Linked DNA regions of Homo sapiens: region 1 is linked to region 2. The links come from fine-mapping of genetic effects on plasma protein levels. Region 2 holds a variant in brackets. A gene starts in the other region. All regions are shown on their forward strands. Region 1 holds the start of TNN (tenascin N). Region 2 has its middle 8.5 kb from the start of SCARA5.

What was found. A credible set is the group of variants that fine-mapping cannot tell apart. PIP is the posterior inclusion probability: the model's chance that the variant is causal. The UK Biobank Pharma Proteomics Project read protein levels with antibody pairs (Olink). The fine-mapping took linkage between variants from a reference panel, not from the people measured, so its PIPs are less certain.
Region 1: it holds the start of TNN, and the variant in region 2 is the best candidate, but not a certain one, in a credible set for the plasma level of the TNN protein (UK Biobank, PIP 0.67).

What each region holds. Positions count from the first base shown.
Region 1 is chr1:175,058,788-175,075,324 of GRCh38, forward strand. It overlaps TNN (tenascin N), which reads left to right and starts at 9,046. Exons shown (of 19, transcript NM_022093.2): 1 at 9,046-9,148. RefSeq lists an enhancer at 8,367-9,566.
Region 2 is chr8:27,993,502-28,008,745 of GRCh38, forward strand. No RefSeq gene overlaps it. Among named protein-coding and RNA genes, the nearest start is that of SCARA5, 8.5 kb to the left of the region's middle. The variant C/CA (reference allele first, on the strand shown) is at 680.

The DNA of each region.
Region 1 (16,537 bases), not on the chromosome of region 2:
ACCATTTGGCAGTTCCTCAAAAAATTAAATATAGAGAGACCATATGCCCCGGAAATTAACTGCACTCCTAGTCAAATATCCAAATATCAAAGACAAAAGCATTTATCTGCATAAAAACTTGGACACAAATGTTCTTAGCAGCATTATTCATAAAAGCCAAAAAGTTGAAACAACTCAAATCTTCATCAACTGATGAATAGATAAACAAAATGTGGTATATCCATATGATAAAATATTATTTAGCCATAAAAAGGAATGAAATTCTTAGATATGCTACAGCATGTATAAATCTTGAAAACATTATGCTCAGTGAGAGAAGCCAGACACAAAAGGCCACATATTGCATGATTCAGTTTATATGAAATGTCCAGAACAGACAAATCCATAGAGACAGAAAGTAGATGAGTGGTTGTCATGGACTGGGGGAGGGGGAAGTGGGAAGTGACTGCTAATAGGTGTGGGGTTTCTTTTTGAGTTGATAAAAATGTTCGCAAATTAGATAATGGTGATGGCTGTTCAACCTTGTGAGCACACTAAGAACCATTAGATCAAAATATTAAAAGCATACTTTTATGGTATGTGAATTAAATCTCAAAAAATATATAATGGCCGGGCACAGTGGCTCATGCCTGTAATCCCAGCACTTTGAGAGGCCGAGGTGGATGGATCACTTGAGGTCAGGAGTTCGAGATCAGCCTGGCTAACATGGTGAAACCCCGTTTCTACTAAAAGTACAAAAAATTAGCCGGGCGTGGTGGCATGTGCCTGTAACCCCAGCTACTTGGGAGGCTGAGGCAGGAGAATCGCTTGAACATGGGAGGCGGAGGTTGCAGGGAGCCAAGATTGCGCCATTGTACTCAAACTTGGGAAACAAGAGCCAAGAGCAAAACTCTGTCTCAAATATATATATATATATATATATACACACATATATATATATATATATGTATATATATATATGCGCATATATATACACATATATATATGCGCATATATATACACATATATATATACACATATATATATGCGCATATATATATATATGACTATCTCAGGGCTTTGGGGAAAATAAGACAAAGAAAATCAGTGTACTAATAAATGTTTAGTTTATGACATTTATTATATAAAATGATATTATGGTTGTGAAATTTACTTACTCCATTTTTTATCCTCCTGCCTCCCTGATCTAAATGACTTACAGTGTAGATCAGTAGTTCTCAACTCTGGCTACACACTTGCACATTTTAGAACCACCAGGGGAACGTTTACAAAATACAGTTCTTGGGTTTGACCCATGGCCAATTAAATCAGAGTCTCTGGTTCTCTTCCCCACCCCAACACTGCCAATTTCTTTTATTAAAACTTCCCAAGCGATTACCATGTGCTGCCAAGACTGAGAGAATTATAGGGTAGACCAAGACCTGGGCAACACTGAGTCAGATTATGTGGGGATCCTTCAGCAAGTCTTTTCATTTTTCTCTTCTTAAGTCAGGTTTATTGAGATATAATATATATATATATTAAAATTTATACTTGTAAAATGTACAGTTCAATGAGTTTTGGCAAAGTATTTGACAACCACCACCATCAAGATATACAACATTTCCAGTACTCCCCTAAATTACTTTGTGTCCCTCTGCAACCAATCCCTTCCCCCGTATATTTGATGTACATACTAGAATGCTGTGCAACATTAAAAAGCATGTCTTTTTAAATAAATGTAAGAAAATGGAGAAAAAAGTTACTATATAAGGAGCAAACAGAAAAAATTCCCTATATAATATAATCTTAATTGTTTAATCTTGTTTTTATGTATATGCACAGATATTATATGTCTCTCTACATATGAAAACATTCGTAGAAAAAAATTACTGGTTATTTCTGGTTGTGAAAATTACAGAAAATGTTAATTTTCTTTTTTATATTTTTATACATTTTCTAGTTAGTCTACAATAATAAGTTACTTTTGTCATGAAAATAATGATATTTACAAAATAGCAACCTATGGTCAAGTAATGCATCAAGAGCCTTCTAAGGATCGAACTGTCAGCCCCTAGGTTCTGGGTCCCTAGCTGCAAATGCAGATTTCTAATTTCACACACCAGGTCATTGGCTCATAGCAACTGCTATTGCTAAAAGAGGTTAATGAGAAGATACTGACTTCTACTGAGATGGATATCAAAACATATTGACTCAAGAGAAGGAAATATTGATGGGAAAAGAATCAAGGTCTTTCATTGCCTTGAAGGGAGTAATAAACCTTCTTAGCTGAATCCCACATTCTCTTCTCTGTTTTTATAGGCACACACATCTAATGTCAAAGATGGTGCATCTCTGTAAGCACTATTAGAGACTTGAACTCAGTAACTATTACAAGGGATGAATAAGAAGAAAATGGGTACAGAATAAATATAATTTATGGAGCGTGACAGCGTGCGCGCGCGCGCACACACACACACACACACACACACACACACACACACACACACAGAGAGAGAGAGCGCCAACACAAGATATTGACCCTAGAGGTCTGTTCAGCTTTGGTTTCAGTTCTTTTAGATTCAGCAGAATCCTAATTAAAGATATGAAGACATATCTTCCAGCCAGCTCAAACAGATCAAAACCAGCTGAGAGCAGCTCTAGGTCTCCAAACTAGACAACTGATTCAGGCTCCCTTAGAGCCAGCACATTGGCCTACTGGGTTTTGGGAGATTTCTTAGGATGAATACAATTAGAGACGACCACAGATGACTGACGTTGGAATGCTTTCTCCTACATTTTTCTCAAATAAAATAAGACATAATAACATGTTGGTTGAACCATCATTTGAATCAGTGACTTTTTTCCGGGTTGTTCTGGAATGGGTTATACTATTTGGACAAAATGAGTTGAAATTAGTTTCATATTAAACTATTCCCCTAGTTTGAATATAGGCTCTTGTATCATTTTTCCATTTACATGTTACTAAGAAAAAAAAAACTGAATCCCTTAGAATGCTAGCAGCTCTAAGAAACAAACTCCTGATTCAAGAAAGTTCTGAAGTAGGAAAACTTGAGAGGTGGTTAATTCAGCAGGATAGCAACATCATAAAAACACAGGATTTCTTCCATTTTCTGTTCCGACATCCTTGGTGTGTTTTCTTTGTCTTTGGCTAGCACCCCTTATGGTTGGTTGTAAGGTGTCTGCCACAGTTCTAGGTGTTCTTTGTAGATGTGACAATATCCAATTCTTTTGAATTTGTTTTGTTTTGTTTTGTTTTGAGACAGGGTCTCACTCTGTTGCCCAGGCTGGAGTCCAAGGGCATGATCACAGCACCCTGCAGCCTTGACCTCCTGAACTCAGGTGATCTTCCTACTTCAGCCTTGAGAGTAGCTGCGACTACAGGTTCACACCACTATGCCCAGCTAATTTTTGTGTATGTGTTTTGTGTTTGTTGCTGTGGGTTTTTTTTTTTCATTGTTGTTTTTTTTTTTTTTAAGACAGGGCCTCGTCATGTTGCCCAGGCTGGTCTCAAAATCATGGGCTCAAGCAATCTGCCTGCCTTGGCCTCCCAAAGTGCTGGGATGGTAGGTGTGAGCCACCACACCTGGTCTTTTTTTTTTTTTTTTTTTTTTTTTGAGTGAAGGAACCTTTCCTTGAATCTCCATCTGTGTCCTCTCCTTTATGTCTCACCCACCCTCAAATTCACTGCATGTTCTTGCCTAAATTAGTCACTGGCAAGGGTGATGAAATTACCCTGGTTGGCTTAGATCAGTCAGAGCCCTTCCCTGAGCCCAACCAAGATCAGGAGGTGGTGAGTAGACATCAAAATAAAATTAGGGTTCTTGGTGAAGAAGAAGGGCAAGGCTCTCAGGGAGGCAGGCAAAATAGGGCCTGCTACCACGGTGTAGGCCTCATATGTTTGGGGAATTTGCCTTGTTCTTGGGCATCTTAAGGCATAAATCTGTCATGATGGAATTTCAGATAGCTTATTATTTACTTTACAATACCATAGGTAGTGAAGGCAATAAAAGAAAACAGTCCTCATTCTCCATGAGCTCATACTGAAGTTAAGGAGCCTCTTCGTGGACACAACTAACAGCTAGCCACTACTGAAAGTCTCTAAATGAAGAATTCTGAGAAGAAATCCTATAGCTCAGGTGTCAGCCAAGATCAGCTTTCTTAGGGAGTTAAATAAAATTGGCTCCAATCTCGATCCTACATCTTGTGAGAAATCTGAGATCTCCCCATTCCCACATCCATGACCAACTCCTCTGGATTCTGTCCTGGGCAGTGTGAAGGGCTTACATCCCAGGGGTCATGCCTGGACCCGAATTTCTGCTTCCTCTGAAGTCTGTTGCACTATGCCTCACATCTTACAGACATTTCCTTGTGCAGTGCTGACCCAGATGTGTGATGTAGCTCCTGTCTTTTGGTTTATCTTTCCCCATCACATGAGTTAAAAAAAAGCATTTGTGTGGGTGGAAGACTTAACTTAAGGTTTGGGACCAGGAAGAGGGATTTATAGAAAACAAAGCAAACAAGCCAGGGTTGGTGGCTCACACCTATAATCCCGACACTTTGAGAGGCCAAGGAGGGTGAATCACTTGAGGCCAGGAGTTTGAGACCAGCCTGGCCAACATGGTGAAACCCATCTCTACTAAATGTACAAAAATTTGTCAGGCGTGGTGGTGGGCACTTGTGGTCCCAGCTACTTGGAAGGCTGAGGCAGGAGTATCACTTGAACCTGGGAGGCAGAAGTTGCAGTGAGCCAAGATTGTGTCACTGCACTCCAGCCTAGGCCACAAAGTGAGACTGTCTCAAAAAAAAAAAAAAAAAAAAGGCAAAGCAAACAATGTAATATAGAGTAGACATTCTTGCTCTTAAAAGTGATTTTCCTATTTCACCTGCCCCACTCCTCCCCAGGCCTTAGCCTCATGACCTTCATAATCTTAACAATCTTTTCTGTTTTCCTACTGCCAGTTCCTATTTATTTCATGCAGAGCAGTTTTGCATTTTTTTTTTTTTGGTTTGTTTGTTTCTTTGTTTCATTGCAAACTTGTCCTAAGGATCCTAAGTATTTTCCTGAACAAAGAGAGTTATCTCTCTAAGAAAAACTCTGAAGCCAGGTGTTAAAAAAACATTTCACATTGATTCAGGCTATTATAGTAGGGAAATCTGAGCAGATCTCTTGGATGTGGAGATGGGATTGACTTCAAGAAGTGGGGGCTGCATCACCAGTGTCTGGAGACAAGGAGGAGCATCATGTTTACCAGGGACTGAGAGGAGGCTGAGTTGGTTGAAACTGATGGTTTGGGCCGGGTGTGGTGGCTCACGCCTGTACTCCTAGCACTTTGGAAGGCTGAGGCAGGTGGATCACCTGAGGTCAGGAGTTTGAGGCCAGCCTGGGCAACGTGAGGAAACCCTGCCTCTACTAAAAAAATAAAAATTAGCCGGCCGTGGTGGTGGGTGCCTGTAATCCCAGCTACTCGGGAGGCTGAGACAGGAGAATCACTTGAACCCCGGAGTTGGAGGTTGCAGTGAGCCGAGATCTCACCACTGCACTCCAGCCTGGGCAACAGAGTGAGACTCTGTCTCAAAAAATAAGTAAAAAATAAAAAAAACCTGATGGTTTGTATTTATAAATAGCAGGGGAATAATTTGGATATGGAGGTGCATAGGAAGGGGCATGATGGGGCATTACAGAGAACTTTAGAAGCGTAATCCTGTAAGTAATGAGAGTTTCTGGAGGATTTGGGGCAGGGAAAAGATATGATTAGATTTTAGAATTCAGGGAGAACACTATACCGGTAGTGATTGGGTAGGCTCTGTGGCAGACTTCAAGCTGCCCATCAACCCCTATTCTTTCTTCCTTTCTTTACTCACAGAGCTCCTGAGGTTTAGTTGAACACAACCACTGTGCCAGCCTCTCCGGCAGCTGTATGTGCACATTGGCTAAATTCTGGCCAATGGGATGCAGAAGAAGTGATGTGTTCCTTTTCTAGCGTTATCCAAAATGTGCATCATTCTCCAATAGAAAGAAATAAAGATATTTGGAGAAATGGCTGCTTCTAAAGGACTGGGTAGGAGAAGTGCAAGATCAGTCTGGAATATCTTGCTGTGCCAAAAGTAAGGAAACACTCAAAGAATGATGGAAGTGTGTTAAAAGCACACAGTAACCAGCCTGAAGGGTTCACCCTGGCCAAATCTGGGGCAATTTGAGCAACAAAATAATGATAGTACAGGAATATAACCCATAGAATGAAAAAAAGAATATGAGTCACTTTGAATATAAGGTGATTAATAAAATAAAGGTGGGGGAAGAAAAATTACTTTTTATAATAGAATTCTATCTAGTAAACATAAAAAGAAAGATGAAATTAGGAAAATCGCCATTTGGCAGCCAGCATAGTAGTAATTGTTCCAGGCAAGAATCAACAATGGGTGTTAAAACTAGTGAGTGAAAATATAAAAAGAAGCAGAATATTTACATGGTTTAAAAACATCATCCCACAATATACCTGTTAAATAAAAAAGGGCAAATATTTACTGTGGAGAAACCTGGCAGATATCACCCTAACCAAGTGGTCCAAGGTAACATCACCAACACTGGGACAGACTGCCATCAAGTGTCTCCTGATGTGATGGACCAAAGACACGCCGCTTCTGCCGCTGCCTGCCAAAAACGTATGGCCTAAATCTAGGCATGAAAAAATACCACACAAATGCAAACTGAGGACATTCTTTAAAATAACTGACGTTTTCTCTTCAAAAATGTTAAGGTCATGAAAGATAAAGATTGAAGAACTATTCCAACTTAAGGAAATTTTAAAGACAGGACAACTAAATGCAATTAATTATCCTGAATTGAATCCTGGGTCTGTAAATTATTTTTCTTTTGCTATAAAAGACATTAGAGAAACAATCAATGGAATTTGAATATCGTCTGTAAATTAGACAATAGTATTATGTCAATGTCAATTTCTGATTTTGATCATTGTATTGAGGTTATGAGAGAGTATGCCCTTGTTGTTGGGAAACACCCTATACTAAAGTTTTTAGACATAAATGGGTAAAGAGATAAATCATGTCTTTAATTTGCTCTCAAATGTTTTCAGGGAAAACTATTAAGAGAGAATGAATGATTGGCAAATATGACAAAATGTTAACACTTGGAGAATATGAGTGAAGGGTATACAGGGATTCTTTTAATATTTTTGCAATTTTTCTGCAAGTCTGAAATAATTATAAAATAAAAAGTTTTTGTTTTTGTGTTTGTAAGGAATGAGCACGCACTTCCATCTGCCCTCATCCCTTTACCCTTCCTGTTGGCTGGGAGATGATGACCCTAGAGAGTGGTGGGTGTGTGCTGTGGATGGTGGCACTGCCCTACCAGCCCTGGGCCACTGTCTTCTACTGTTTGGGGAGAAATCATCTATGTTGTTAAGTCACTGCATTGGAGGGTCTCTTTGCTACAGCTCCATGTCCTGCAACTAACTAATACCAGCTGTAATAAGGAGAGATTGGAGGAAGGTGGCTTCTTAGGAGCCTGGTGCACTGGTTTAGTTATTCCTATTGAGGGCATGGAAAATGGGGTCACGGAGAGAGTTGGTGAAGACCACTCATTTGGGGAGAGTTAGTGAAAGGAAATTAAGAATAGGAGAGCAACTTGAGGGCGCAATAGAGTCTTAGGATCCTCTGGGAGAGATTTTCCCTTTTAAGAAGCAGAGAAAATAGTCCAAGGGAGAAAAGAGATGTTTGGGAGTTGGGAAATTTTCTGGTGACCCTGGTTCCTACTGCACTGGTCACCTCTGTATATGGCTGGCCCAGATTCCAGGGCCAGATAGCAGGATTATTTGTGGTTGTAAGTGAAGGGCAGAGAACTATGAACCTACCTGGACTGAGGTGGAGAGGATCAAATATGATTTAGTGGGATACATAAGGAGAATTAAAAAGTTATAATAATCATGGTAGCAGGTAATCTTTACCAAGTCCTCATTGTGTCTTGGGACTAGTCTAAGTTCTTTACCCCATCTACTCATTTGAACCTCACAATAACCATAAGACACTATTCCTATTTTACAGACGAGTAAGCTGAGCCACAAAGAAGTTGTCAAAGGTCATTTGCAAGTAGCAGACACAAGCTTCAGATCCAGGCAAGCTGCCTCTGGGAACCCCCCTCCAATTTCTGGGGGCCACTTTTTGGTCCCCCGTCTCTCCTTCTCCTTTCCCTCCAGCAGCATTTGATGCTGACATAGGTGAACTGGAAACATATGGTCTCCTTCATTTTGTTGTGGATCTGCACTCCAGAATCTACTTCCCACAGAGCAGGAGAGGGATGGGGTGTAAGGAAGGGTGGCAGGTGTCAGCCCATGCCCTATTGAAATGACTCTGGTTCATAGGAAGGATGAAGGCCTGTCCATCTGAGGGCAAAAGAGGAAGGGCAGCCAGAAAGGGGCACGACTATTCTTTCCTGATTTTGGAGCTCTTGTACTGTTGGCGTGTGGGAGGCATTTGGGATGGGGTGAGGGTCAGAGTGGGCTTGTGGGACCGAATGTCCCCAGTCTGTTATTCCTGCCCCCACTTCAGAGTCCTGCCACTCACAAGTGTGAGACGATGGATGAAGGAGGAGGGAAGTCAGAAGAGCTTCTGTCCCTGAGGGTCTCTGCTCATTTCTTTCTGTGCTAAAGGCTTTTTCCCATTTTAAAAGCAGTAGGCAGGAAGTCCCAGAATGCCTGAAACAGGAAAAAGAGAAAGAAACTTTATAAATGCACTTTTGAACCCCGAGACCCAGCTCCTGGCCAGGAGACAGGCAAACTCTTTTAATATCCTTATTCTGGATTCACTTAAATGGAAACAGCCTCCAGTATTTTTAGCTGCTGTGTAATCAAAGTGAAAAAGAAGAAGGAAATGTATATATTTTTCTTTCCTAGTTAGAATAAGAGAAGGAATTGCTCATTATCTTTTAGCAGAGTCCCTGCTAGGAAGGGAGGAAAACACCAGGAGTCTCCATTTGCTCCTCCTCTGGCCTAGACAGGATTTAAACCCAGGAAGGGAAGCCAAGGAGAGACGAGAACCAGGGACGACCAGCAAGTACCAAGGTCTGCGGCAGGAGGAGACCGGCTCACAGGAGCAGCAGCATTGGAAGAGGCACCCAGCAGCCTCCCAGGTAAGAGTGCCAGTTGCCCAAGCTTTACTTACTGGAGGGAGGGAGGTGGCCAATGCAGATGAGCTCAAAAGTGGTGGCTCAGGTGCCTCCGTTCCCGAGCCTGAAAATCCGGGCAGTGTAATTAGTCTCCTATCACCTCCATGAAGAGTTAAAATGAATTGGGAAGTACCTCTCAGGACCCGTGTACTGCATCCTTAGTATTATACTCCAGTCTCAGACAGGGCTAAGCATAGTTATCCTCTTTCCTGCAACACAGATGCGTCTGTGTTGTATCAGCTTCTACCTGGCGTAACACATTTTTGTATAAAATGTTTCCTTTAAGATGTTCCTTCTCATTTTTTTTTCTTTTTAACTTACTTACAATGTCAAAGCTTTCTCTCTCTCTGTCTTTTTTTGGATAATTTAGTATTGTTGTATTTCATTATTCTTTTAAATCCTAAAACAGAATTGTTATTTTAGTTATGATTAGGAAGCTATGATAACTTTCCCTTTGTCTGGATTTTGTGTGAATCAGTTAAGGGGATGTTTGCAAACACATTTGAACAGCTTTGAAGTATCTCCAGACATTTAATTTTACAGGTTTTAATTATTATTTGTTAAGACGACAACTTCTCTCGAAATCCCCATACTATTACCCTCACAATACCTCAAAGAAAACATTTCAAGACATCTAAAAAAATGATGTGGTTGGCCGGGCATGGTGGCTCATGCCTGTAATCCCAGCACTTTGAGAGGCTGAGGCAGGTGGATCACCTGAGGTCGAGAGTTCGAGACCAGCCTGACCAACATGGAGAAACTCCGTCTCTACTAAAAATACAAAAAATTAGCCGGGCGTGGTGGCGCATGCCTATAATCCCAGCTACTTGGGAGGCTGAGGCAGGAGAATTGCTTGAACCTGGGAGGTGGAGGTTGCGGTGAGCCGAGATTGAACCATTGCACTCCAGCCTGGGCAACAAGAGCAAAACTCCATCTAAAAAACAAAAACAAAACAAAGCAAACAAACAAAAAAAACTAGTTTTTGGAGGTCTTACTTTTTACTTATTTATTAATTTTTGTGCTTGGGAGAGATCTGGGGGAAGGATGGAGAAAGAATGAATGAGAACAGGCAGGGCTTCACTTAAAAGCATGAAACCTGTGTTGCTTATATAAGCATTAAAAAAAAGAACAAGTTCCAACATAAAAGTAACAAACTGCCCACATTGGGACACAGGTTAGCCACAGTGCCTAAAATCCACTGGTTCTTGGAAAAGCTGAGGTGTCACCAAGGCATCAGATGATACCTTGCTCGGTCAGGGCTACGTATTGGCAGCTGGCCTCTTGACATTCAGACATTTGTTGCAGACTCAGAATCAAGGTGACAGTGTCAGACACAGGAAAAAATAGAGTATCAATACTGGTATCATTTTTCCAGGAGAGAAGGGAAGAAGGCACCTGGCATTCTTTCATACAACTCTAAGTACTGCTTTGTCCCCAGTTTATAGGCTGCAGCTGACTCCCGAAGGAGGGAAAATAGAACAAATGATTTCAAATCATCCCGTGGCTTCTGGTTTTCCAGTCCAGTGCTGCTCTGTGGTTTGAAATGTAGGGTGGGCAGAGCTCTCTTTCTGAGAAGATGCCTGAGGAAATTGTGCCCAGGCCCAGTGGAAACTTTTGTCCATTCACTGCTCATTCCAGAGCCTTGGCTCCTATAGGATCTGGATACAGACATGAGATCATGGTTTAGGTCCTGTAGCCACATCTGGAGCCACCAGTCTGTGAGCAGAAGTTGCTAAGATCTCAGGCCTGATCTCTGGATGGACAGGGACTTTGCTGCTTCTGCCACAGTGGACTCACTGCTAATGCTGCCCAGCCACCATTTGAATCTGTACCCAGCGAGTGTGAGTGGAACAGTGCAAATGCTTGGAAATTAGCAAACGCTCTCCTCCTTGCTAGAAGACTGGAACTTTAAAGTTACTTCAATATGTGGAAAACAACACGTTAGCTAAAGAAAGAAATTGCAGAGTTTTTTGTTTTGTTTTGTTTTAATCTGACGCCCCTCACACCCATGGATATTAGGGCTAATTGTATACAAAGTAATATTTAGTCATTCTGGGGACTGGCTGTTTGGTTGAATAAGGGAGAGGAAGGTTCCTGAATTTAGGTCCCGTGTCTATTTTATCTTGTTATTGTGCATGAGCTTGGTCCCACAAAAGCTAAAGGAAGTTCTTGCTGTGAGAAAGTGATTCATTCTCTGGGGGTAAATGAACATCTTTGCCTGATGTCCAAGAGGAGATTTTAAAGTGCTTTGCACAGAGCCTGGCATGTAATAAATGCATAGAAAATGGTAGCTACCATTATCATCACTCATTTGAGCCTTTGCAAGGCAGATTAAGAGTCAGTTGTCAAAACAAAACAAAATGAGCCTGTGGTCACCCCTGAAAAAGTGATTGAGTGCTGAGGCTGGGTCAGGACACCATCCTTGATCTTTTCAAGCCTCAGGCGGGTGGGCAGACTTGATGGGATGGCTCTCCAGGAAAAGGGTTCTAGCACGGTGGTGTGAGAGTCATCTCCAAGGACTTCCTGGACACTCCCTGGGTATCCCACAGAACTAGGAGAATGGGGGGACAGAGTGATACCCAGAATGTGACCATACTAAGCCCTATCACATAAAACCAAATTTCCATTCTCTTCCATACTTAGCTGTCTTGTATCCTATATGCAATCCTATATTCAACATCACAGAGACTAGAAATAAAAATGTTTGTATGTACTTGCTTCTACTGGAGTTTAACCTAGGAGAGACAGACCTCCCTTGTATATCCATTTTCTTGGATCTGAAGGAGAAAGAGATACAGAGGTGAAATCGGTCCCCTAAGCCTCTAGTTCAAGGTGAGTTGAGCCAGGGTAGATTCCTCAGCCAGCTGAGAACTTGCTGTCCTGGACCAGGTTACTTGGGAAGTACAGGGAAGGCCCCTGAGTCACCCAGGGCCCAAGCTGCAGATCATTAGCAATATATGCCAAAGAGAGTTAAGGAAGGAGTGACAAGTTTGCCAGTGACATTTGTGACATTGATGCATCCCTAGCCACTCATCTCCCTCATTTTCCTTCATAGTTTAATGATATCCACCCTGTCATTTGGGGACAGAATATCTTCTTAAGTGACTCTGTTGGAAATCCATGATGATACACTTTTTCTAAAACCCAAAGCAGTGCTTTCATTTTCCTGTGGTTAACTGTCAAGGCAGGATGAGATAATAAGGGAACCAGAGAAAGCCCTGAATTTAAGTATAAAGGTCTGTAACAGTGGCTAGAAATTGGCTACCTCTCTTCTTTGGCGTAAGTAGTATTTTTTTTTTCCTGACCCAGGGTGTGTGTCCTTCTTTGGGGAAAATGAGGTGACACAGAAACCATCCACCCCTGGGGTCCAAGAGGACCATCAGGATTCAGGGGCCATCCTCCTCCCTTGGCCAAGGCTTGGATGCCATCTGCCCCTGCAGACAGAAGTATCTGTGCACTTTGGTGTTTCCTAGGAAGGGAATTCTCCAGCTTCTCATGAGAATTGACTGGGACTTAACCTCTATGTGAGGGAAATGCAATTCATGTCCCCAGTGGATCATCCTTGGCACCACTCAGAGGAAGTAACCCTCTCTTAAAAACACATGGCAGAACGGAGGACATCTGGTGTTTTTTTTGTTTTTGTTTTTGTTTTGTATATACAGGACATATAACAGACAGATGAAGAACACAGACGCAGGCAGTGGACAGACCTGGTGTGTGATCCCAGCTCTGCTGCTTTTTAGCTGTGTGTCCTTTGGCAAATTACTTAACTTCTCTGAGGACCTGTCACAAAGAATGATATCAACTGACTCCCAGGACTTTGAGGATTAAATGAGGATAATTTTTATAGCGTTTGGCACAATGTCCATTATCTAATAAGCACACATACACAGACACACACAAATCCAGTGGCTATTACTACTTACTTCACAAAATATTACTTTGGCAGGACTGTGCTATGAGGCTGGTGATACAGAGGGGATCAACACAGTCATGGCCCTCTCTGTCATCTCTGAGCTCACAAGGATACCTGGGCTAGAAACACGCATACAGATTTGGCAACTGTCAACATTTGGCTGGAAATTAAAGCCACAGGGGTAGATGCAGATACCAAGAGAGAACACAGCAGAAGCATAGAGCCCTGCAACATCTGAAGGCAGAAGTAGGGGGACCATCCATGCAGCCCATGGTCAGTCGTGTACTCCTCAAAGAGCCTTTCTGGTAAAAGCAACACAAGGCAGCATTTGTTCCTGAGTCTAATGTATCCCTCCCTCCCACCTTCCCACACCACCCAACACCCCTTCTGCAGTCAGAATTAAAGACATGACCAGCCTCTGTAAGACAATGATTCTTGGGGACAACTGGTTTCCTGTGGTTCCTGCATACACATTTCCTGCATGTAAATGCCCTTCGCTTCATGCATCCCTGCAGAATTTACCCAACTTTCCATGGGAAAATACCCCTCAGCAGAATAATCCTCCCTATTTGGAAATGTATCATCCTGCGTTTTGCTCAGAAAAATCTTCTGCCCTGTCTGCCCCCTCCCCACCCTCGCGGAGCTCAGCCTGTGGTTTGCTGTGCATACTGAAAGAGTCGATGAAGTCATCCTTCCCTTCTGCTGTTAAACAAGGAGTCTCTTTCCTGCCACGTGTTGGAGTGAGAGCCAGCAGGCTTCTCTTCTTGCTCATTACACTTGACAGAATGTTAGGTTGAGGATTTCCCTTGCTCTCATCTTCTTTCGAACAATCAACCTACCCAGGAAAATCTGAGCGCAACTTGTGGAATCTGAGAGGCAGTAATTAATGAGGACATCTTGTTACAAATCAGAAGGACAGGCAACACCAAGGGCTCCAACAGGGACTTGTGGGAGTTCTCATATTCCAGGCTACAAAAACAAATGCTGTAGACCTGGGCTCTGGGCAGCCTTACTGTGGTTGATGGCAAGAGTCCACGGCTTTTTTTTTTTTTTTTTTTTTTTTGCTTTCGTTGAGAACTTCTTCAGAAAACCATCTGCACTTCATTTATGTCTCAGGCTGGGGGTGGGGGGTCGGATGGAAAGCACGGGCAGAGAAGTCTGCTTTTTCAGCCCTATTTTTGCCCAGGAAGAAGATTTTTGGACAGTGGAAACTCATGTGCTGCCATGAACACAGTAGGTGCTTTAGAGATCAATATGCGTTGTTACTGGTGAACGGCAGAAGTGTATAGGGATTAGTGGCTCCATTGCTGGACACTGTGCATCTGGGATTGCATCTGTGGCCGTGTGCTCATCAATTGCATAATCAGTTGCTCAATGCCACTGAGCCTCAGTTCCTATCCTGGGGATCAAGTGGAGAATAGCGTGTGGCTTTTATCTTTGTGATGAACGTCTAAGGATGGCCGTTGTGAAATATCATTATTTTTATCCTACACCTGCCTTCCAACTCATTTTCCTGGCTTCCCACTCCCCCCATCTTCTGACAAAAATCTCAAGCAGATTCCAGAGCTTTTCTGGTGGCTTTTGGTCTTAGAAGAGAATTGCTTTTGTGAAAGCAAGTCCATTTCAGTATTGAGCCTCAGTCTCTCATCCAGGCCACATCTTTTCTTCTTTCTCAGCTCAGACCTGATGCTGGAACCTGCAGAGAAGCTGGAGGGAAGGGGCTTGGGGCTTTCCTCCCTCCACTTCTCTCTCCTTAACATGCATGGCTGCTTCTGGCTTCACCAGTTTGCTGCTGCCTGGGGCGAGGTGAGGGTTAGAAAAGAAGGGAGAGGGCACTTTTACTTTACTGGGGCTGTTGTGGTTCCCTCTGTTGGATGCCCTTGTTATGGTGAATGCTTCCAGTGCTGGGCCACCCCTCCTTTGTGGGGAGCTTCTGTGGGATCTTTAGATATTCCCCTTCCCACCCACTGGGCATGTCCTGCTGCAGTCGCCCCCTTGGGGTGGCACACTCCTGCTGAACGGTGGACCTGCACCTCAGCTCGGGCCCTGAACTGCCCTCTTGGTAGCTCTAACATGCCTCATTTCTGTGACATCAACTTGGCCTCGCCAAAGTCTGAGTTTCAGTCCTCTCACACTGCAGCCCCCTTCCTCTCTCTGCCATGCAGCCTGTTCCAGCCAAGCTTCCACCTGTGAATTCCTCCGGGCCAGAATCAGGCACCAGTCTCTTTGCCTGCCACCCCCACTAATTCACCGTGACCCCACCCCCAACCCCCAAACCTCCAGTGGCACACTGTCTTTGAAATGTGTGGGCACGGCCAGGTGTAGTGGCTCATGGCTGTAATCCTAGCACTTTGGGGAGCTGAGGTGGACAGGCTGCTTGAACCCAGGAATTCGAGACCAGGTTGGGCAAGATGGTGAAACCCCATCTCCACAAAAAAAATACAAAAATTAGCCAGGCACTGTGACATATACCTGTAGTCCCGGCTACTCAGGAGGCTGAGGTGGGAGGATCACTGGAGCCCAGGAGGTGGACATTGCAGTGAGCCGTGATTGTGCCAATGCACTCCAGCCTGGGCGACAGAATGGGATCCTGTCTGAAAAAAAAAAAAAAAAAAAAAAAAAGAAGTGTGCAGGCACTTATTACCCATGGTCCAAGTCACAAGACAACAAGAAGTGTCCCATTGACTATTCCATTCCATCTGCCGGGTGTTGAGTCCAGTGCCTGAAATGCAGTCAGTTCTCAGAAGAAGTGAGCTTTTATTATTATCAACAATACATGCTTTTGGTGATAGGAAGAGCCATGAAGGAGTGGGAGGGCAAAGGGGTAACACAAAGAAAAACCCTTCATAGGTACCATTCTGCTTAATTCACAGTGGTGTCACATCCCTTGGGTACAACATGTATAATGGATGAAAGCATTGCATAGGGACATGTATCTAACTGCGCTCATTTGTCATTTGTATCAGAATGTCATATTGGCACAGAGCAAGCATAGGCTTGCAATCAGATGGGTCTGCGTTTGAATCCTGGCTCTGCCACTTCGTTGTTGGGCAACCCTGGCAAATGACTTTACCTCTCAGATCTGGTTTCCTTACCTTTTGAGTGAGGAGAGGAACACTGACCTTACATGGCAGCTCTGGGGATTAATTACGAGGAATAATGCACCCAGCCAATGCCTAGTGCGTAGCAGCAACTCAGTAAATAACATTTAGCATTTCATGCTATTGTGATTCTTCTTCTTCTTTTATTCTTCCAGGGCTCTTCACCCCCTGTTTCCTCAACTTCCTGATACTAAATGAATGATGACTATTAAAATTAAACATTTTACATATTACTAGAATTTGGCTTAGTGGCTAGAAATATTTCTTCCTTTTATAATCAATATAGTTGAAAGATGCCTTTCAACCTAGGCGTTATTATTATTATTTGAGATCGAG
Region 2 (15,244 bases):
TAGGCTATGCAGATGGCTTCCAGAGGACAGCACCCAGAGGTAACATTCATGAATGCATTCCTGTTTGTTGGTGAAAAGTTCAGCCTCAAGACTCCAGGGTCAGGCTTCGTACATGAAAAGTGTTTGCCAAGACTCAGCTGTGTCACTGCAGCTGCCCGCCCACAGCTGAGTCAGAAACGCCGTCCTCATTCTCAGTGACTGCCCTGCCTGACTGCCTAGGAAGCAGCTCCAACATCAAACTCCATTTTACAGAAAGAACAAATGATAATTGTATCATTATGGTAATAATCCCAGGGAGCGGAGGAGGAGAAGGAAAAGAAGACAACACTTTATAGCATATACCATGTGTTTCTTATATATTAGCTCATTGAACCTATTCAACAACCCCCTGAGGCAGGTGCTGCTATTATGCTCATTTACAGAGACAGAGAGGAAGTGACTTGTCCAGGGTCTTGTAGCCAGTAAGTGGCAGAGCTAGTATTCAACCCTAGGCAATGTGATCCTAGGGTCTATGCTCTTAACCCCTCCCCTGTACCATTGCCTCTCAAGGGGAAACAAATGTTTTTGTCCCCCATCAATTCACCAACATTCCTAGGAATGTAATCTTAAAAACAGCCAGAAATGTGCTCAAAATATGATGTCCAACCAGCCTGGGCAACATGACAAAACCCTGTCTCTA[C/CA]AAAAAAAAAAAAATACAAACAATAGCTGGGCGTGGTGATGCACACCTGTAGTCCCAGGTGCTTGGGAGGCTGAGATGGGAGGATCAACTGAGCCCAGGAGTTTGAGGCTGCAGTGAGCTGTGATCGCACCACTGCACCCCAGACTGGGTAACAGAACAAGATCCTGTCTTAAAAAAAAAAGTGATGTCCAAAGACCTTCCCTAAAGAGATGTGTATGTTAGCAAGAAATGTGGTAGTTAGTGTCCCCCTAAATTCAAGCATTGGAAATGTAATCTTTATTGCAACAGTGTTGGGAGGTGGGGCCTTTGTGGGGGTATTTGAGTCATGAATGTATTTGGGATGCCGTAGAAAGGGCTTGCAGGAGTGGGCTGGCTTGATCCTCTGCCTTTCTGCCATGTGAGGACTCCACGCTCATCCTCGCTTGTCCTCCCACCTCCCGCCCTGTTCGAAGCACTGAGTCCTATTGCGTGATAGGCACATACCACACACAATGTGTATATCGGTCTCCTGCTGAAGGGGGTTTGGGATGTTTCCAATCTTTGTCTATTATGAATAAAGCTGCCGGAACAGGCAAAGGGAGATTTGACAGTGAAGTATAGGAATGACCTGGAGGGCTGGTTTTCTCATGGGTGAGAGTCCTCCCGGCAGCTCTTAGCTCAGATACCTCCTTGCCACTAAAATCAGAATTGTCCCCAAAATGATTTGCTTCCATTCAATCACGGATGGCATTTGTAGTAGGCATTTCCCCCCCAGAAGCTGAATGAAAATGTGATTGCCTTGATAGAGGAGGGTTCAATAGACTTCTGAAGTAGTTTCATCTATGAAATCTCAGTATTTGAAATGGAGGGACCAAGCTTTTTCAGTTTGTTTTTTCTAGAGGTAGGATGTCACTTTATCACCCAGGTCGGAGTACAGTGGCACAATCATAGCTCACTGCAGCCTCGACCTCCCAGGCTCAAGTGATCCTCCCACCTCAACCTCCTGAGTAGCTGGGGCTACAAGCACATGCCACCACACCCAGCTAATTTTTTAAAATCCTTTGTAGAGATGAGGTCTCGCTATCTTGCCCAGGCTGGTCTCAAACTTCTGACCTCGAGCAATCCTCCCGCCTCCACCAGCCAAAGTGCTGGGATTACAGGTGTGAGCCACCATGTCCAGACTCCATTTTTGACTCTGATAAATGGTGCTGCTGTGAACATTCTTGTGTGTGTCTTCTGGGGAACATATGAATGCCATTCTCTTGGGCATATACCTGGGCATGGAATCGCCAGGGCATAGGATGGCCCTGTGTTCAGCTTTGGTAGACACTGCCAAAGAGTTTCCTATGGTGGTTGTACTAGTTTATATCCAGCAGGGGATGAAACTACACTTATTCCTTGTCCTTGTCAGTGTCAGTGATGTTTATTCCATTTTCCCTGCTCTGGTGCATTGTAGAGGTGCCATATTGTGGTTTTAATTTGCATTTTCCTGATGACTCATGAAGTTGAGCACCTTTAATTATGTCATTAAGTCTGATTGTTGACTTGAACTCTGGGCCCGTTACACCAGCAGGTCCTGCCCTATGGCTTGGGGTTGGCTGTTCCATCTGCCTGGAGTGGTTCCACCAGATGTTTGCACAACTAACTTCTTTGCCTCATTCCCATCTTTTCTCAAATGTCACTTTGTTCATGCTGCTGAGCCTAATGATTCCTACCCACAGGCCAGGCATGGTGGCTCACGCCTACAATCCCAGCACTTTGGGAGGCCAAAGCGGGAGGATCACTTAAGGTCAGGAGTTTGAGACCAGCCTGGTCAACATGGTGAAAACCTGTCTCTACCGAAAATACAAAAATTAGCTGGGTGCAGTAGCAGGCACCTGTAGTCCCAGCTACTCGGGAGGCCGAGGTGGGAGGATCACTTGAACCAGGCAGGCCGAAGCTGCAGTGAGCCAGGATTGCACCACTGCACTCCAGCCTGGGTGATAAAGCGAGACCTGATCTCAAATAAATAAATAAATAAAATTGCTACACACCCCTTGCCACTCTTAGTCCCCCTCACCCTGCTTGGTTTTGCTTACTGTCTGCTAGAACAGCAGCTCCAGGAAGGCAGCTCACTTGAGTGCTTCAAAATGCCTAGCAGGGTGCCTGGCGCACAGTACACGCTCCAGAAATATTGGTTGTGTGACAATCTGAGGAAACAGCATCAGGCACAGGGAACAGAAGGCTCAGAGGCCTCAGTATGGAAACACACTGGACATGCCGGAGGGGCAGAGAAAGGCCCAGTGGCCAGAGCACAGAGGATGCAGTGGCCAGAGAGAGGAGGTCAGGGGAGAGGGAAGCCTGGGTCTCACCCTGAGCACAGAGTGGAGCTGAGGCCACGCCCTTCTTTTTTGTCTCTATCTTCTCCCAGGGAACACATCGATCCTGTACTGTTCATATTTTTGCTTCTTTTTTTTTTTTTTTTTACATATTTCTTCATTATAGTTTGCTACTTCTTGTTTAAACTTTTTAAAAAAATTAATTGTGGTAAAACACACATTGCATAAAATTTGCCATCCTAACCCTTATTTATTTGTTTGTTTGTTTGTTTATTTATTTATTTATTTATTTATTTATTGAGACAGAGTCTTACTCTGTGGCCCAGGCTGGAGTGCAGTGGCGTGATCTCAGCTCACTGCAACCTCCACCTCCTGGGCTTAAGCAATTCTCCTGCCTCAGCCTCCCAAGTAGCTGGGATTACAGGGGTGAACCACCACGCCCAGCTAATTTTTGCATTTTTAGTAGAGACGGGGGGTTCGCCATGTTGGCCAGGCTGGTCTCAAACTCAAATGATCCACCCGCCTCAGCTTCCTAAAGTGCTGCGATCACAGGTATGAGTCACCATGCTCAGCCCTAACTGTTTTTAAATACATAGTTCAGTAGTGTTAAGTACATTTGAATTGATGTTCAACCAGTCTCCAGAACTCTTTTCATCTTTCAATACTGAAACTCCACTCATTCAACAACTCCCCGTCCCCTGTCCTCCAGCCCCTGGCACCACTCATTCTCCTTTCTGTCTCTTTGAATTTGACTACCCCAGGGACCTTGCTATTTCTTTATCTGTGGCCTACTCTGCAAAAATACACTCGAAAATGTTTACCTTTAGTATTTTCTTTTTGGTTAGTTTTTAATCTGGTTCACATGAAATATAAGTGCTTTTCAAAAGCAATTTTTGTCCATCGTTTACAAACCAGTGTTTATCTTTTATTATTGTTCAGCTTTGTAAAAATATCTTGGTGAGAAGTATGTAATCAGCTGGGTGCGGTGGCTCACGCCTGTAATCCCAGCACTTTGGGAGGCCGAAGCAGGCAGATCACTTGAGGCCAGGAGTTGGAGACCAGCCATGGTCAAGATGGTGAAACCCTGACTCTACTAAAAATACAAAAATTAGCTGAGCATGGTGGCTCACGCCTGTAATCCCAGCTATTTGGGAGGCTGAGGCAGGAGAATCACTTGAACTCTGGAAGCAGAGGTTGCAGTGGGCTGAGATTATGCCACTGCACTCCAGCCTGGGTGACAGAGTGAGACTCTGTCTTAAAAAAAAAAAAGTATGTAATCTTTCAAAACTCAAAATTTGTATTTATCATTTTTAAAAAGTAACATTTAATCATATAATGAACATGATCTTGTTTAGGAGTTCATTTTGGTAAAAATAATTGTACACATGAAATAAGAATTTAGCCTTTGTAAAATTGTATTCAATCAATAACATAAATGTTTTCTGATTTGTCATCTTGTTTATCTCAAAGTATCCATGCAGTCTGAACTGAAGTCTGTTCATCCAGTCTGAACTGAAGTCTGTTCATCCAGTCTGAACTGAAATCCGTCAACCACCCTGACCCACAAGGTCGCTAACCCCAGCCAGCAGTAGCTAGATCTCAGGGAGGAAAAACAGATCTGAGAAAAGCGGCCTCCAAGTCAGAAAGCAGCCCAGCTTTTAACATTTTTATTTGGATTTCCTCCTCTATAATTTTCTGTATTCCCCTCTCCCCTCAAAATTATGAGTACTTTATTAATTAGAAGAAATGGCCAGGCACGGTGGCTCATGCCTGTAATCCCACTTTGAGAGGCTGAGGTGGGAGGATCGCTTGAGGCCAGGAGTTCAAAACCAGCCTCGCCAACATGACAAAACCCCATCTTTACTAAAAATATAAAAATTAGCTGGGCGTAGTGGCGGGCGCCTGTAATCCCGCTTCTCAGGAGGCTGAGGCAGGAGAATCGCTTGAATCTGGGAGGCAGAGGTTGCAGTGAGCTGAGATCGCACCATTGCACTCCAGCCTGGGCGACAGAGTGAGACTCTGTCCCAAAAAAAAAAAAAAAGAAAAGAAAAAAGAAAAAGAAAAAACTACAGTAACCTCATAAAAAGATAACTCAGATTATTTATCCTCAGCACACTAATTTATATGCTTAGCTAGGAAAGCAGGCATGTCAGCAACAAATGCCACTGTCACAAAATGCTGAATTAGGAGTAAATCCCTACACTTACAGTGTCAAGTCTTGGACTTCAATCTGATCATTCCTAAATGCACATCACTGGGCAATCGCTAAGCTTCTTGGTCTCTGTGTTGTCACGGGACATAAAAATAATAACTCCATATCACAGAATAGACAGTGGGATTAGACAGTGGCTGAGAGGCCACTGACAAACCTCATGAGATGGTCCTAGGAGTCCCTTGAAAAAGGATTCTCTGGTGAAAGCCAAAAGCATGCCTTTATTGCAGGACTTATCAGAGCTTTTAAGGTGCTCTTGAGCCTGGTAATCCTCCAAGAGGGGGATGTAGTGTTAAGGCTTCTCCATTCTCACTTGAACAGAGAATAAGGCTAGTGTTCCACAGCATGCACTGAGGGAAATTCTGAGCTGAAATTGGTAGTAGAGATGACTTTCTCAATCATTGAAAATAATTTTAGAAAAATGTTAAGGCCTACTGCTCCAAGTGCCACATCGTAAAAGACGCCCACACTGGTGGAGTCTGAGGAGGAGCCATCAGTCCTGAGAGGGCAGTAAGGCCATCTTACCTGTCCCCTTCCTGAGGAAGGGGCCACGTCCCATTTGTCATTGTCTCCCATCCTGCAGCTCAGCCCTATAAATGCGAGTGGCCTGAACACCTTGCTCAAGGCCAGGGGCCACCCCTGCCCACTAGCCTCCTCCATCCTGTCCTCTGCCACCATGACACCCACACTCCTTCTCTTGTCCCTCTCACCCCCATGCCCACCTACTGAGCCTCTGGCACTGCCTGCCCTTCACCACCACCTTCCAGACTCCCCAGCACAGCTCACCCTTCAAGGCCAGCTCAGACTCTGCCTCTCCTCTGGAGCCTCCTCTGCCAGCTGGGCCTCAGCTTCCCTAGATAATTCCAGTGCTAAGGGCTGACCACCTGCTGAAGGGCCTGAACAACATGCCTCTGGTTGCGCTGAGCTCATTAAAGGCCTGGTCCATATGTTCTACCCTTGCGGCTCCTTCTTCAGCATCTAGCCCAGTGACAGGCCCAGAGCAGATAATGAGCCCACTCTGACCAGTTGGTGTGGAGACTGAAGGAACTCCATCTTGGATGCTGACCCGCCATGTTGACTTCCAATTCACCCCAGTTCCAGGAATGCCTCTAAGATTTCTACTTTCACATACTTACCGTGAATCCTGCCGTTGGGTCTAAACAACCTTGACGTAAATCCTGCCCTTAGCAAATCCATGTTATACCCCTTCCCTGTGTTATATAAGCCCTGGGATAGGGGGTGTTGGTGTGGGGTTCTACCATCTCATCTTGTGCCCACCTAGGACATGGCAGTAGGTTTGCATAGACCTGCTCACCACAGAACGGTTGGTGATATGGATGGTAGACTTCAGAGAAGCTTCGTGAAGCAAACACTGGATTCTGAGCCATGAAGCCTGGTCTTGACTCCCATCTCCACCCTCCTCAGCCCTGTGAGGTAGGCAAGTCACAAAACTTCTTTGAACCTGAGTTTTCACATGCTGTACTACCGGGTTACTATTTCCCGGCCTTACCATCCACCTCAAGGGTGGTTATGAGGCGAAGGCACTTTGAAAATGCTGAAGCTCTTCTCTAATGTCAGCCTTACTGTTATTTTTCAGACTTAGCAGCCCCTGACAAATGGAGTATTAATCACGATGATGGGGCTCCCTATCCAGAGTCCAGCTGCTGACAGCTGGCACTGAGTCCAAGACAGCGGGAGCAAAGTTCTCTGCCTTGTGGAGTTCCCTGCGCCGTCATGGAATCCACCCAACCATCTGCTTCGTCTCGATGTGCTTGGCTCATTTTAATTCTTTTCCCAGAGTGTGGGGATGATGGATTCCGTGAGACAGCCCAGGTTTTCTGACACCGGTCCAGGGTTGTAGACAGCAAAGTCAATGAGCTTCCTCCGTGTCACGTTCATAGCCCAGAGACCCAAGAGCCAGCCTTAACTGGAACTGCTTATTTTGTCAGACTCAATGACCCAGGGTACCCTTTAAGGGATCTCTCTTGGAGTTGAGATGATGTAAAATTTGAGAATTAGATTATGATATCATTTTAATGGGGGTAATTTGTAATTGGTAGCCAAACATGTTTATTCAAATGAATCATAAGAAACTTCTCAAAACAGGGTAAGATTTGGGGCCAAAACTTGTAAGAAGGAATTTAGTGGGATGGGGCAAAATAGACACCCATGTTGGGAAAAGACACCTCTCACATACAGGATATGGAACACCAGGCTTCTCCAGGCATATAAGAAAAAATCTTACATTGGAGATGGCTTTGAGGTTGATGGAAGTCAGAAACAGTTGGGGAAAACAGCTACCAGTTGAGTAACCTTTATCTAAAATGCTTGGGACCAGAAGTGTTTTAGATTTCAGGGTGTTTGTTTGTGTGTTTGTTTGTTTGTTTTTCTGAGAAAGGGTCTTGCTCTGTTGCCCAGGCTAGAATACAGTGGCCTGATCACAGTTCCCTGAAGCCTTGACCTCTCAGGCTTAAGCGATCCACTCACCTCAGCCTGGGACTACAGGCACGCAACACCACGCCTGGCTAATGATTTTACCTTTTGTAGAGACAGGGTCTTGCTATGATGCTTAGGCTGGTCTCAGACTCCTGGGCTCAAACAGTCCTCCCGCCTCAGCCTCCCAAAGTGCTGGGATTGCAGGCCTGGACCACCGTGCCTGGCCTGGATTTCAGATTTTTTTAGATTCCAGCTCAACATCCCTAATTTGAAAATTCTAAATCCTACATGCTGCAATGAGCATTTCATTTAAGTGTCATGTTGACACTCAAAAAGTTTCGAATTTTGGAGCATTTCAGATTTTGGATTTTCAGATTCGGATACTCAACTTGCATTTCAAAACTTAAGCTGCATTAGTAAAAGCAGGATGAACAGAAAGATTGAGGATACAGAGCCTTTGAGCCCTGCGTTAATGAGCTCACAGTTGGTGTAGTATGCTCAGTTCTAGGTTCTTCTGAAAGATTTAGTCAAAACTTAGAGGGTGCCCACCAGAGTGACTAGGCTGGTGAAGGGTCCAGAGAACAACAGCAAAATGCAGTGCTTAACCCAGAGAAGAAACTATGCAACGGGGCATGACTGTGTTCTCAGATACATGAAGGGCTGTCATGCAGAGATGTAAGTTTTCTCTGAACTATCCTAGAGGGAGGGGGGAATGCCACCAAATATACAGAAGTTCTTATTCACCACTGAGCTGTCTGGACCCCAGAACCCTGGCTGACGCCTGGAAATTCCCTACCAATGGCATTGCTTAATCAGAGCTTGGGTAATCTGTACTGCATGGAAGTCTCACAGAGTAGTTTCCCGCACTGGGTGGCTGCCTGCACCCAGTAACCCCGATGCCTCTCCCAGGTCAAAGAAGGCCATTAGAAGAAAACTTTTTCCACCTTGATAAAAAGTAGCTTACAACTGACTTTGTGTTTAGTTTGCTTTGGTTGGGGAAAAGAAAGAACATTCCATGCATGTTTTTAATAGCAAGAACTAAAAACAGGAAATATTATATTCAATAAACCTAATAAGTAATACTAACAAATATATTTCAGCGGCAGATTATACCAGAAAGAGAAAAAAAATGAGAAAAAAAAGAAATAAAGGTGAAGAAAAATTGAGAAGGAATGATGGAGATAAAAGAGAGGAAAATAAGGCAAATAAATGGAAAAAGAGAGAAAGAGGGAGAGGGAGAGAGGAAAGAGGAAATGGAGGAAAACAGTGAGGAATCAGAATATAAAGTCATATAACTTATTTCCTTCTCTTCCTTCCTGAAACATAACACATATCATGGCTAGTGCAAAGTGAAGGTTTTCTTTGTTTAATTTAGATCTTATATTTATCAAAGATATGCATGTATTTTTAATAATTTAAAAAATAACCATAGCTGGGTGGGGTGGCTTGCGCCTGTAGTCCTAGCTACTAGGAAGCCTGAGGCAGCAGGATCACTTGAGCCCGGGAGTTCAAGGCTGCAATGAGCTATGATTGCACCACTGCACTCCAGCAAGATCCCATCTGTAATCATCATCATTATCATCATCGTCATCGTCATGATCATCATCATCATATAGTTCTATGAGGCTTATTATGAAAGCAACAGCTCCCCAGCCTCTCAAACCCATATCCTGTTTCCCATAGGCACCAATTTCCAACCCTTCAAGTCTTACTTTTTATATTTATCTCCACTTTTCTAAATAACATAATTATACTGCTATTTCTTTCTCTTTTTTCAGTCTTATGATTATCCATTCCAACTGTAAGGAAAAGACTTATCTCTCTTTTACTCTATTTCCCACCCATACACATGCCTTCCCCCATCCTCCTCATAGAGTTAGATCATCCTTTTGTTTAGATCATTTTTCAGCTATGACGTGAAGGCTGGACTCAGCTGGGACTGTCTACTGGACCACCTGCACATGGGCTTTCCATGTGGCTGGATTTCTCCTGGCAGGATGGCGGGGATTTGAGAGGGAGCATCCTCAGAGCAGGCATTTCTGGACCACCGGGCAGAGGATGCATGGCCTCTTCTGAATTAGCTCCAGAAGTTCTACAGCATCCTTCCCACTGCACTCTATGGATGGTGGAAGTCTCGGGCATGCCCACATCCAAGGGGAGAAGACATAGATGTCATCTATTACTGGGGGTGGGGGGGTGTCAAAGAATTTGGGGGCTATGTTTTACAACGGTCAGATTAGTTTTCAAATTAGATTGTTCTCCAGTCTCTCCACTTTGCCAACTCCCAAATTAGGATTCAATTTTTCTTGAGTCTGCCAAGTCAGTTAGCACTTGTTTTTCTGCTTTTCAGCTTCAAGAATTTTGTTGCCTTGTCTCAACCATTCTCTTTGACCAAGTTTACAGTTGTTTTAGTGGGATTCTAAAGGCAGAAGAGATAACTGGTTGTATTTGACTTTCATATTTAACCCAAAGTTCCATTTACTTCTTTAATTTTAAAAATGTTTCAGTCATATAATTTTACACTAATTCGTTACTGTGATTGTGTCATCCATGATTGTTTTTAATTAATTTTTATATCATTCTATATATGGCTGTATCTAGACCCTTCACCAGGCTGGCCACCCTTTTCTGGACACCTTATTCTCTTTCAAAAAACTTGTTAAAATGGACCACTTGACATTGAACCCAGGTCCAGGGATATATGGCACTGTGAAGTAATTACCCCCTTGTTCTGGAGGAAATTCTTTGCTGTCACAGCCTGAGGCCAAATGGCATTGCTTAACTGCAACTCCACACTGTTGACTTATACTGAGCCCATTACCCAAGCCACCTTTACCCACAGGCTACTAGTAAACCAAGTGGATTTTTGTTGTTGTTATTCCAATCTTGCTCTTGTGCAGGTAGCTTGTGGACCCTGAATGGAATATTCTACATTTATCCTCAGTTACATTTCATCTTGTTAGCTTCCGATACAGTTAGGCTTTGTATCCCCACCCAAATCTTATCTTGAATTATAATCCCCATAATCCCCACGTATCAAGGGAGAGACCAGGTGGAGGTAATTGAATCACGGGGGCAGTTTCCCCCATGCTGGTCTCATGATAGCGAGTGGGTTCTCACGAGATGTGATGGTTTTATAAGGGGCTCTTCCCCCTTTGCTCGGCACTTCTTCCTGCCGCCTTGTGAAGAAGTTGCCTTGCTTCCTCTTCACCTTCCACCATAATTGTAAGTTTCCTGAGGCCTCTTCAGTCATGCTGAGCTAGGAGTCAATTAAACCTCTTTCCTTTATAAATTACCCAATCTCAGGCAGTTCTTCATAGCAGTATGAAAACACACTAGTACAGCTTCCATTCATGACTCCAGCCTGTTGATATCATTTGAATTCTGATTGTGCTTTCTTAGTATTAGCTAATCTCAGCTTTGTGTCATTTACAACTCGTATCAGCCTGCAATCTGCTACAACAAAACCACTGGCGATACTCTGTAAAGCTCAGGACTAAAGATCTAGGCAACCCCACCAGCCCCCTCTCCCCAGCTGGATGCTGATTCCCTGGGCACTGTGCCCAGCTCTTATAATCCCACTTGTAGCTACTTGGCATTCAGCCTATATTTCTTCATCATGACCACAGGAATGGCATGAATCTTTTTGCTTCTCTGTGTGTATGGAAATTGTTTCAGAACATACTGTATTAATAGAAAATGTGAGCTATAGTAAAGCCAATAGATCAGGAGACAACTTCTATTGAAAAGGTAGTTTGTTACTCACAGTTCCCTAGAGAAGGGAGCATGTCATACCACAGGGGACCACACAGGAAAGCACCAGAGGTGGTCAGGAGGCAGAGGGAGATGGGGGAGCTACAGTCAAGAGCCAGAAAGAATGGATGAGGCAGGGTGAGCAGCTTTGGAGTTGGCTGGTATTAAATGAAGTTCAGCCTAATGCTGCCTCCTTACATGTTTTAAGTTCAGCCTAAAGCTTTCTCTATACAACGCAGACTATAACCTAAATGGAGATGTAAACAGACTGCAACCTACTCTTGTGCCAATCACTGAGTTTTGGCCAATCAAAGGGGGCGAACTGCTCAAACCATGTTCAAATAAGGCAAACACCGAGCTATAACCAAACTGGCTGTTTCTGAACCTTACTCCCATTTTCTGTACATCACTTTTATCTTTCTCTCCATAAATCTTCTTCCACCACGTGGCTATGCTGTGGTCTCCCTGAGCCTACTCTAGCTGGAAAGGTAATTTGCATTTGAAAAGCATGCTTTTTTTTTTTTTTTTTTTTTGGCTTGAGAGAAAGTTACTATCTCTAGGAACTGGTTAGCCCTATCAGGGGCAGTTCTTTCAGGGTTAGCAAGGCCCTAGATGTCAAGGCAGGAAAACCCATAAGATAAAAGGCATGGTTAAAACACAAACACAGCGTATTTATCCTTCAGCTAATGTTGATTCAAGGCGGGCCTGTGAGACTCTCAGAGAAGTCCTGCCTCACTGTTCATGACACTCACCCAAAAGAAGAAGAGAAGAAAGTGTCAGAATAATCTGGCCATGGCCAGGCATAGTGACTCACACCTGTAACCTCAGAACATTGGGAGGCTGAAGTGAAAGGGTTGCTTGAGCCCAGGAGTTGGAGATCAGCCTGGGCAACATAGACAAAATATAAAAATAAATTATCCAGGCGTGGTGGCACAAACCTATGGTTTCAGCTACTGGGGAGGCTGAGGTGGGAGGATCACTTGAGCTCAGGAGGTTGAAGCTGCAATGAGCCGTGATTGCACCTCTATACTCCAGCCTGGGTGACAGAGTGAGACCTGTCTCAAAAAAAAAAAAAAAAAAAGGAAAGAAAAGAAAAAGCGTGGCTACTATTTCCACAGGCAACTCCTATAAGCCCTTTCTGTTCATGAGCACTGGAGATTCCCCTGGGGAGGCAGTAGAAGTTCAGCACAGAGGGGATGGTCAACATTAAAGTATTACATCCCTGTATTCCTCGGTATGTTCCTTGGGAAGTGTGTGCATGTGTGTATACTTCTCAGGGTAGATCCGTTCCTAGAGCAATAGTTTCCCTAGTCTCCTAATTCCTATTGCAACTTCTTATGCATGAAAACCTCAAATCAGAGTTCAAGACTGAGTTAGAATGAAGAACTGCTGGAATTAAGTGTCTGTTTCCTACGAACCATGGAGATAAGCTAAAAGGGGCCGCTGGCAAGAGTGAGTGACCATCCTGTGCTGTAGGTCATATTTCTCTCGCTCTGGGTGGGTACATTTGGCTGCCTCCTCAGCAGGCACTGGCTGTCTGCCACACACATGCCAACACGTGCCTGACAGGGCAGCTGCATGCACCAGGATTTTAGCACGTGTCAGGAGCAGGCTCATGAATCTCATTGTCTCCCCCTGGAAACTGCCAGTTCCTTGAATGAGTACAGGGCAGCTGCCAGGGACCCAGCAACCAGATCTCAGCTGGAGGTAGGGGCTGAGTCCCGAAAACTGCACCTGAGTAACAATGGCCCTTCCACCCTAGTGTCCCCACGTCCCCATGTGTCACCAATGCAGCCAGCAGGTGCCATGAGCATGGGAGCATTGCTGAATCTCCAGTTGGTCCCCTTCCTTGGGTGGCCATCCACTGCCACAGCAGATGGAAAGAGAAAGCCCCTCCAGGCTCCTCTCCCTCCACAGCCCTCCACACGTGCTGTGATCCCAGCATGCGCATTCTGAATCAGTAAAAGCCAGTAAGAAAAACTATCCGGTCCCTTCCAACTCTTACGTGTCCCCACCTGCAGGTTGATGGATGGACCCCTCCTTTGGAAACCATCCTCCCTGGAAGCAAGGCCTGTTTTCCTGTTTTCTTCTCTGAGGGGACTTCTCCCCACCACATCTCCTAAAATTGGGCATGCACAGAGTCCATTCCAGGGCACAGTTGATCTGCAGGCTGACGGCAGAATCTTGGGAGACCACAGGCCTGCTGCTGACGGTTGAACCCAAGCATCCAGGTGCCAACACGCCAAGCCCACACCCTTGGCCTCCCTGAGCCCTGCAGGCTTCCCAGGCCTCTTTGGAGCTAATGTTCCAGCATTCAGACCAGCACACCCAAGCCTGCAGTCTCATGTTACTAAAATAGCTTGGCACACAAGCAAAGACTCCATGGGGGCTCCCAAGCTTCCCCTTCCAGGCACCAGGCCTTCTTTATGCCTCACGCTTCTTGATGAAGCAGATAGAGCACTTCTCAGGGAGTCAGGGGACCTGTCATTAGCAGGATGTTGGAGGAATAGTGAATCCTTCAAGTACACAGCAGTTTTCCTAAGAGTTGTCAATGTATTCTACATGGAAATGAGCTTTTACAGGAAGTCAAGAGCTAAAGGAATGAACAGAGTTAAGAAGATTTGCCTGGTAACCCAGGGACGCTCCATCACACAAATCCAGGGGACACCACTCACACTGTGTTTGCTGCGAACTGCTCCCCCTACGGCTGCGCAGTTTTCTACCTGCTCTTTCCTTCCCATTTCTTCATCCAGTCCCGTGGTCATTTGGGACTCTGTGCCCTACGCTTTTGGCAAATTTCAAGTTAGTCTCTTAGAATGTGAGAGCCAGAGGGACCATTGGGTTTATGGCATCCATTCCTCCACTTTGGAGATAGGGAGGCTGTGGCCTGAAGAGATAACTTGTCTGTGCATCCTAGGCGGAGGCAGGGCCCAGATCCGGCACTCCTGACTTCCTCTTCTGCAGCACTACCCTGTGTGTGGCTGCAGACCTGGGAGCCTGCTGGAAACACAGCTTCTCCAGCTCCAGCCCCAGACCTGCTGAATCAGAACCAGCCTTTGATCAAGACACCCTGGTGACTTGCATGTAAAAGTTCTAGAAGGACTGATCCTTAACCACACCCAGGAAGAAAGGATACAGCCCTCTAAACACACTCTTGTTTCTAAAATAACCCGCATTCCCTGCATTCTGGAAGGAAAAGGACATATGATGTATGGGGAGGAGAGGGAGGACTAAGGTGTGTTCATTTTGCAAAGCTGCTCATATGGAGAACGCTGCCCTCCAGGTGGACGGGCTCAGAAGGAACGTCTGTGGGACGGGCTCACGAAAGCCTGGGAAAACGTGACTCTGTAGTCCCCTCTCTGACTTATGCAATTGTTTGTTTGGACACTTGACTGACACAAACACAGCCTCTTCACTCCTCACCCTCTTGACGTCAAGAATACGACCCTTTGCAGAGAGGGGAGACCTCAGAAGAGTCAGAAGAGTCTTGAAGAGGCCTTGAACTTGAACCCCGCAGAGCCAACAGCTGAACTCCCTCCCTGCCTCCCAGAGGCATGGTTCTGCAGGAAGAGGCTCAGCTCCCGGGCAACCAGACCCTCTCCCCACAGACGCCCCTTTGCTCTTCATGCTGCTCTTGGTTTGGCTTTGGCTGACAGATGTCATTTCCTCATCCCTGCTAGAGTGCAGGCTGCTGCTTCTTCCCAGGGGCCAGCAGTAGGGCCTTGTCCACCTCTGCCCTGGGCCTCCCTTGGTTCTAGGAACAGCAAGCAGTTGTTGGGGGCTGAATTTTCTACCCCCAAAAGTCATATGTTGAAGTTCCCCCCAGTTCCTCAGACTGTGACTGTATTTGGAAACAGTGCCTTTGAA